2 linked regions of the Homo sapiens genome follow. The protein of the gene in region 1 purifies or fractionates together with the protein of each later gene. This does not show direct contact. Each region holds a gene or a part of one and is shown in the gene's direction. Other genes may lie near its edges.

What was found.
Region 2: the proteins of PIP4K2B (region 1) and RBMS2 purify together in Homo sapiens (co-immunoprecipitation; one large-scale study listed by IntAct). This does not show direct contact.

Annotation. Positions count from the first base shown.
Region 1 is NC_000017.11:38,775,252-38,779,068, reverse strand, and holds part of PIP4K2B (phosphatidylinositol 5-phosphate 4-kinase type-2 beta), read left to right. Parts: intron 1-696; coding exon 697-735; intron 736-1,268; coding exon 1,269-1,382; intron 1,383-3,817. UniProt on the Homo sapiens protein: Participates in the biosynthesis of phosphatidylinositol 4,5-bisphosphate. Preferentially utilizes GTP, rather than ATP, for PI(5)P phosphorylation and its activity reflects changes in direct proportion to the physiological GTP concentration.
Region 2 is NC_000012.12:56,584,051-56,587,867, forward strand, and holds part of RBMS2 (RNA-binding motif, single-stranded-interacting protein 2), read left to right. Parts: intron 1-2,798; coding exon 2,799-2,876; intron 2,877-3,503; coding exon 3,504-3,614; intron 3,615-3,817.

The DNA of each region.
Region 1 (3,817 bases):
CAGCACAAGTGCATCTCTAGACTCTGAGAAGGACACACTTGTGGCTGTGAACTAGGGTGCTCCGTGTTCTTGAACCTGGCTTCTGACTTCTGTCACCTTATGCCGCCATCCCTTCCCTCTGTGCTGCAACTGGGCTGGTTTCCTCTGTGTTCCTGCAGTGCCTGTGCTCCTCTTCCCAGGATTTCACATCTGCTGTCTGGAATAGTCTCCTTCTCTCTCTCCACCCACTCCTTCCCCCACCTAATTGCTTCCTCCTTACCCTTCTGAGCTCAGCCCAAATACTACTTCCAGGAAGTAGGTAGGCCCTGGCCACTGTCCCTCCCCAGGCCGGGCCCGTGTGGTATGTGCTTTCAGAGTGTCCTGCTCCTCCCTGTACCACTGAGCACCGTGGTAGTGAATGAACTAATGACTTGTGGAACCACTGCTGAATATCTGTCTCCCCTGTTAGAAGGAAAGTAGCTCAAGGGCAGGGACTGAGCTTCTCCAGTGCAGTCCTGTTTGCTGAGCACCTAAAAAGTGTCTTGCACATAGAGCTCTATAAGTGGGCTTGACACAGTAAATGAACAAGGTGCTGCCTCCTGGCCCCTCTAGGACTCTAACAAGCCTACTTGAGTTCACCTGCTGGCTCTCCCATGTTTGCTCATGCAGTCGACTTTGCCTCAGCTTGACTTCCCCTGATGGCTCTTATCCTTTCAGGGTTCTACGGTTGCCAGAGAAGCGAGCGACAAGGAGAAGGTATGCTGGTGCTGAGCAGGAATGGAAGGGTCGCTTGGAGTCAGAAACAACTCCTGTCGGCCATCCTGTCCCTCGCCCACCCCAGCCCCTAGCCCAGCTCCCAGACATGCCGTCTGTCAACATGAAATGCCGTGTGTCATGAATCACCTGTCTGTCCTTGTGCTAGGCCTAGACCTTGGTCTCTGGTCTTTTACCTCTGCCCTCACTACGTTCTTCATAGTCCTGCTGGGATGGCAGACATTTCTATCTCATAGTCCAGCCTGAGTCAGTCAGTGGCTGCCTGAGCCCTGAGCTGGTCCAGGCTCAACAGGAAAGAATCCTTTAGTCATTCCTCATCTTTCATGTGTTTGCCCTCCCTGCCCACCCAAAGCCTGGGACTAGAGGCTCCTGCACTGCTGATTTAGCAGGTTGAGGGTCGGTACACTGACAACCCCTCCTTCCCCTTTCTGTATAGTTGCTCCCGGCAGAACAGTTGGGTGTCCCTGGGGTGAATTAATCAGGCTTACCCAGCCTAACTGCTGTTGCTCTCCTAGGCCAAGGACTTGCCAACATTCAAAGACAATGACTTCCTCAATGAAGGGCAGAAGCTGCATGTGGGAGAGGAGAGTAAAAAGAACTTCCTGGAGAAACTGAAGCGGGACGTTGAGGTACTTACTAACCTTCATTTTCACCTGCAAGGCTCCTTCTGTACCTAGAGTAGGCGCCTCTTAAACCTTAAGAAGAATGGAATTCAGTACTTTCCAGGAGTATGGACAAAAGGGTGGTGATTTGAGCAGCGTGGGCACTTATGGGCACCTAAAGCAAGTGCAAATGATCATTCCACCTGACGGAGCATAGTTGGCGCCAGTAGGACCTTTGTAATTTAGTTTAGAATGCTTTTCCCTTTTCACTAATTCATTCCAACACCTTTTTCAAACTCCCTTCTGCTGTTGTCCCTACAATGGAGAGGGCATCTGGCCATCAGAGCTGTAGGAACCCAGCTATTAAGGTCCTGTAACCCCAACATTTTGGGAGGCTGAGGTGGGAGGATCGCTTGAGCTCAGCAGTTCAATACCAGCCTAGGCAACATAGCAAGACCTCATCTCTACTAAAAATTAAAAAATTTAGCCAGGCGTAGGGGCACACACCTGTAGTCCCAGCTACTTGGGAGGCTGAGGCGAAAGGATTGTTTGAGCCCGGGAGATGAGGCTGCAGTGAGCTGTGGTCTCACCACTACACTCCAGCCTGGGCAACAGAGCAAGACATTGTCTCAAAACAAAAACCGAAAAAGTTGGCTAAGCATGGTGGCTTACTCTTGTAATCCCAGCACCTTGGAAGGGTGAGGCAGGAGGATCACTGGAGCCTGGCAGATCAAGGCAACATGAGCTGTGATCATGCCACTGTGCTCCAGCCTGGGTGACAGAGCAAGACCCTGTCTCAAAAAACAAAAATCCACTAATCAGGTTCTTCTCTGGCTCTGGCTCTGATTCTCCACTTACCTAGCAAACTTCTGTTTGTAATCTGGGGAGGACAGGTGCTAAATAGTGAAAATGTTATCTGGACCACTTGATAACTCAGCGTCTCCTTCTCTTTTAATAAATTGAGAGGCTGCTCGTTAAAACCAAATCCTACAAACAAACTTGGGAAAAAAAATTTTTTTTAATTGTGGTAAAATACATATAATAATAGGTGTTTTTTTTGTTTGTTTGTTTGTTTTGTTTTTTTTTAGGAGATTCTCGTTCTGTCCCCAGGCTGGAGTGCAGTGCAGTGGCACGATCTCGGCTCACTGCAACCTCCGCCTCCTGGGTTCAAGTGATTCTCCTACCTCAGCCTCCCAAGTAGCTGGGACTATAGGCACGCACCTTAACCATTTTGATATATAGTTGAGTGGCATTAAGTATATTCACATTGTTATGCAACCAGCACTACCATTCATCTCTGAACTTTTATCTTTCCCAGCTGAAACTCTATACCCATTAAATACTAATTCCCAATTCCCCCTCCCTAACCCCTGGCAATCAGTGTTCAATTTTCTGCCCCTATGAAGTTGACTACTCTAGGAACTTCACATAAGAGGAAGCAAACAGCCAAGCGAGGTGGCTCATGCCTGTAATCCCAGCACTTTGGGAGGCTGAGGTGGGCGGATCTTCTGAGGTCAGGAGTTTGAGACCAGCCTGACCAACATGGAGAAACCCAGTCTCTACTGAAAATACAAAATTAGCCGGGCATGGTGGTGCACGCCTGTAATCCCAGCTACTTGGGAGGCTGAGGCAAGAGAATCGCTTGAACCCAGGAGGCGGAGGTTGCGGTGACCCTCCAGCTTGGGCAACATGTTATGAATGAAACTCCATCTCAAAAAATAAAAAAAAAAAAAGGAAGCAAACAGCAGTTGTCCTTTTGTGACTCTGTTATTTTGCTTAGCATAATGTCTTCAGGGTTCATCCATACTGTATCATGTGTCAGAATTTTTTTCTTTTTATTATTTATTTATTTGTTTTGAGACAGAGTCTCGCTCTGTTGCCAGGCTGGAGTGCAGTGGTGCGATCTCGGCTCACTGCAACCTCCGCCTCCCGGGTTCAAGCGATTCTCCTGCTTCAGCCTCCCAAGTAGCTGGGACTACAGGCGCGTGCTGCCACGCCCAGCTAATTTTTGTATTTTTTTAGTGGAGACGGGGTTTCACCATGTTGACCAGGATGGTTTCGATCTCCTGACCTCGTGATCTGCCTGCCTCGGCCTCCCAGAGTGCTGGGATTACAGGCGTGAGCCACCACACCTGGCCAGAATTTCTTTCTTTTTAAAGCTGAATAAGGCTGAGCATGGTGGCTAACACCTGTAATCCCAGCAGCTCAGGAGGCTGAGGCAGAAGGACTGCTTGAGGCCAGAAGTTGGAGACCTGGGCAATTTACTGAGATCCTGTCTCTACAAAAAATTAAAAACTAGCTGGGTGTGGTGACATGTGCCTGTAGTCCTAGCTATTCAGGAGGCTGGGTGGGAGGATCCCTTGTGCCTAGGAGTTCACGGTTGTGGTGAGCTATGATCATGCCACTGTGCATCAGCCTGAACTAGAGGGTAAGACCCCATCTCTTTAAAAAACAAAACAAAA
Region 2 (3,817 bases), on another chromosome or scaffold:
TGTCCAACAAGTTCCCAGGTGATGCTGCTGCCACTGCTGCTGGTCCAGGGACCATAGTGTGGGAATCACTAGTTTTTGCCATATAAAAGTTTAAAATTTGGCCAGGTGTGATGGCTCATGCCTGAAATCCCAGCAGTTTGGGAGGCAGAGGCAGGCAGATCACTTGAGCTCAGGAGTTCGAGACCAGCCTGGGCAACATGGCAAAACCCCTGTCCCTACAAAAAATACAAAAATTAGCCAGGTGAGGTGGTGCGTGCCTGTAATCCCAGTAACTCAGGAGGCTGAGGTGGGAGAATTGCTTGAGCCCGGAGATTGAGGTTTCAGTGAGCTGTGATCGCGCCACTGTACTTCATCCTGTGCAACAGAGCAAGACCATGTCTCAAAAAAAAAAAAAAAAAGTTTAAAATTTCTATATAGTTAAATTTGTCTTTTTCTTTTATAAATAACTTTTGAGGCCAGGCACGGTGGCTCACGCCTATAATCCCAGCACTTTGGGAGGCCGAGGAGGGCGGATCACAAGGTCAGGAGATCGAGACCATCCAGACTAACACAGTGAAACGCCGTCTCTACTAAAAATACAAAAAATTAGCCGGGCATGGTGGTGGGCACCTGTAGTCCCAGCTGCTGGGGAGGCTGAGGCAGGAGAATGGCGTGAACCTGAGAGGTGAAGCTTGCAGTAAGCCGAGATCGCGCCACTGCACTCCAGCCTCGGCGACAGAGTGAGACTCTGTCTCAAAAAATAAATAAATAAATAACTTTTGAACTTCTTGTCTTTTTTTTTTTTTTTTTTGTGACCGAGTTTCGCTCTTGTTGCCCAGGCTGGAGTACAATGGACCAATCTCAGCTCACTGCAACCTCTGCCTCCTGGGTTCAAGTGATTCTCCTGCCTCAGCCTCCCAAGTAGCTGGGATTACAGGCATATGCCACCATGCCTGGGTAATTTTGTATGTTTAGTAGAGATGGGGTTTCTCTGTGTTGGTCAGGCTGGTCTCAAACTCCCAACCTCAGGTGATCCACCCACCTCGGCCTCCCAAAGTGTTGGGATTACAGGCGTGAGCCACTGCGCCCGGCTAAATTTCTTGTCTTAATTTAAAAAAGTATTCTCTGTCTCTATACTGTGTATCTGGTCTCTAAGATTTTATGTTTTACATTTACATTTAAATGTGTAATCATCAGGAATTTATCTTTGTGTATGGCATAAGATAGGAGTCTGTTTTCTTTCAGAGTGTTAACCAGTTGGCCTAGCGCCAAATTATTAAATAATCTCACTTTTTGGATTATTTAATCCAATATTGGATTATTTCAAATCCAATTTTAATTGAAATGTCCTTGCAACCCATTATATACTTCTGTGTCTATGGATTTGCCTATTCTGGATATAATAGGCAAAGCTCAGAAAATTGTATGATTGTGTGATTACACAAAAGTAAAATCATACAATATGATTTTTTTGCGTCTGGCTTCTTTCACTTAGTATGTTTTCAAGATGTATCCATGTTGTAGCATTTATCAGTACTTCATTCTTTTTATAGCTGAATAATATTCCATTATATGGCTATACCACATTTTGTTTATCCAGTTATCAATTGGTCATCATTTAAGTTGTTTCCTTTTGATCATTATGAATAATACTGCTATAAACATTGATATACAAGTTTTTGTGTGGACATATGTTTTCATTTCACTTGGATATATACCTAGGAGTGGAATTGCTGGGCTACATAGTAACTCTATATTTAACTTTTTGAGGAACTGCCAAAGCATTTTCCAGAGTAGCTGCACCATTTTACATTCCCACCAGTGGCAGTGTAAAACACTTGTTATTCTATCCTTTTAATTGTAGTCATGCTGGCCTTGCACTGTGGCTCATACCTGTAATCCCAGCACTGTGGGAGGCTGAGGTGGGCGGATCACTTGAGCTGAGGAGTTCAAGACTAGCCTGGGCAACATGGCGAAACCCCGTCTCTACAAAAAATACAAAAAGTAGCCAGGTGTGGGCCGGGCACGGTGGCTCACGCCTGTAATCCCAGCACTTTGGGAGGCTGAGGCGGGCATATCACGAGGTCAGGAGATTGAGACCATCCTGGCTAACACGGTGAAACCCTGTCTCTACTGAAAATACAAAAGCAAAATTAGCCGGGCATGGTGGCGGGCACCTGTAGTCCCAGCTACTCAGGAGGCTGAGGTGGGAGAATGGTGTGAACCCGGGAGGCGGAGCTTGCAGTGAGCTGAGATCCTGCCACTGCACTCCAGCTTGGGTGACAGAGCAAGATCCTGTCTCAAAAAAAAAAAGTAGCCAGGTGTGGTGGTGCACACCTGTAGTCCCGCTACTGCACTCCAGCCTGGGCAACAGAGCAAGACTCTGTCTCAAAAAATAGAAATAATAATTGTAGCCATCCTAATAGGTATGAAGTGGTATCCCATTGTGGTTTTGATTTGCATTTGAACCTCTTTCATGTACTCATTGGCTATTTGTATATCTTCTTAGAGAGATATCTTTCCAAACCCTTTTTTTTTTTTACTAATTTTTTTAGTGACAGGGTCTCACTCTGTCGCCCAGGCTGGAGTGCAGTGTCAGAATCATAGCTCACTATAATTTTGAACTCCTTTTTGCCCTTTTTTAAACTGGATTATTTATTGAGTTTTAAGAATTGCTAATATTTTAAAAACAGTTTTTCTTAATGTTTCTATTTTGAGTGGGGCATTCAAACTTTTCTGAGCTTTGTTGAACATTATTAGATCTGTGGGCTGAATAATAGTTTCCAGGCAATTAACATTTTTGTTTTTGCTTGTTTTAGAGAGTGACTCAGACATCTCCTCTACAAGTACCTAACCCATCCTGGATGCACCACCATTCATACCTCATGCAGCCTTCAGTGAGTATTCAGAAGTGGGCAGAAGCCAAAGAGGCAATTTGATGTAAAGAAAAAACTGGCTGGGCACTGTGGCTCACGCCTGTAATCCCAGCACTTTGGGAGGCCAAGGCAGGCAAATCACCTGAGGTCAGGAGTTCGAGACCAGCCTGGCCAACATGACAAAACCCTGTCTCTACTAAAAATGCCAAAAATTAGCCAGGTGTAGTGGCGGGTGCCTGTAATCCCAGCTACTCAGGAGGCTGATACAGGAGAATTGCTTAAATTCGGGAGGCAGAGGTTGCAGTGAGCTGAGATCGTGCCATTGCACTCCAGTCTGGGCAATAAGAGTGAAACTCCGTCTCAAAAAAAAAAAAAAGGCCTTTGATGCCAGGAGATGTGGGTGTGAGTTCTGGCTCAGACCCTTGTGCAACCCAGCAGTAAGACCTAAGCTTGTTATTCTTAGACGAGGGTCCTTCCACACTGACAGGCAGAGTTCCTATTCTTGTTGCATAGTTGGGTTGCTGCTCACTTACCATTTCCCAGGATTCTTAAATGTCTGTCTCCAGTGGTCCTGACAGCCACCGATCACTGCTTTAGGCAGCCTCACAGGATGCTGCAGCTAACCCTGTCCTTTGTTGCTGCCTCTAGGGTTCAGTTCTGACACCAGGGATGGACCATCCCATTTCTCTCCAGCCTGCCTCCATGATGGGACCCCTTACCCAGCAACTGGGCCATCTCTCCCTCAGCAGCACAGGCACGGTAAAGCAGGATATTTCTGATTGTAAACTCTCCTACTGAGCAAGGCATACCTGTGTAATACTCTTCAGCGTAAGTAACTTATGAATAATGATGGAATTACTTCAGTGTCATCCGGGGCACACTCAGAACAGGACATAAACTACAATGGTAGTGCTCCATGAGCCAGGAATACAGCCATTCTGCTCCCCAGCCCACCCCTTTTA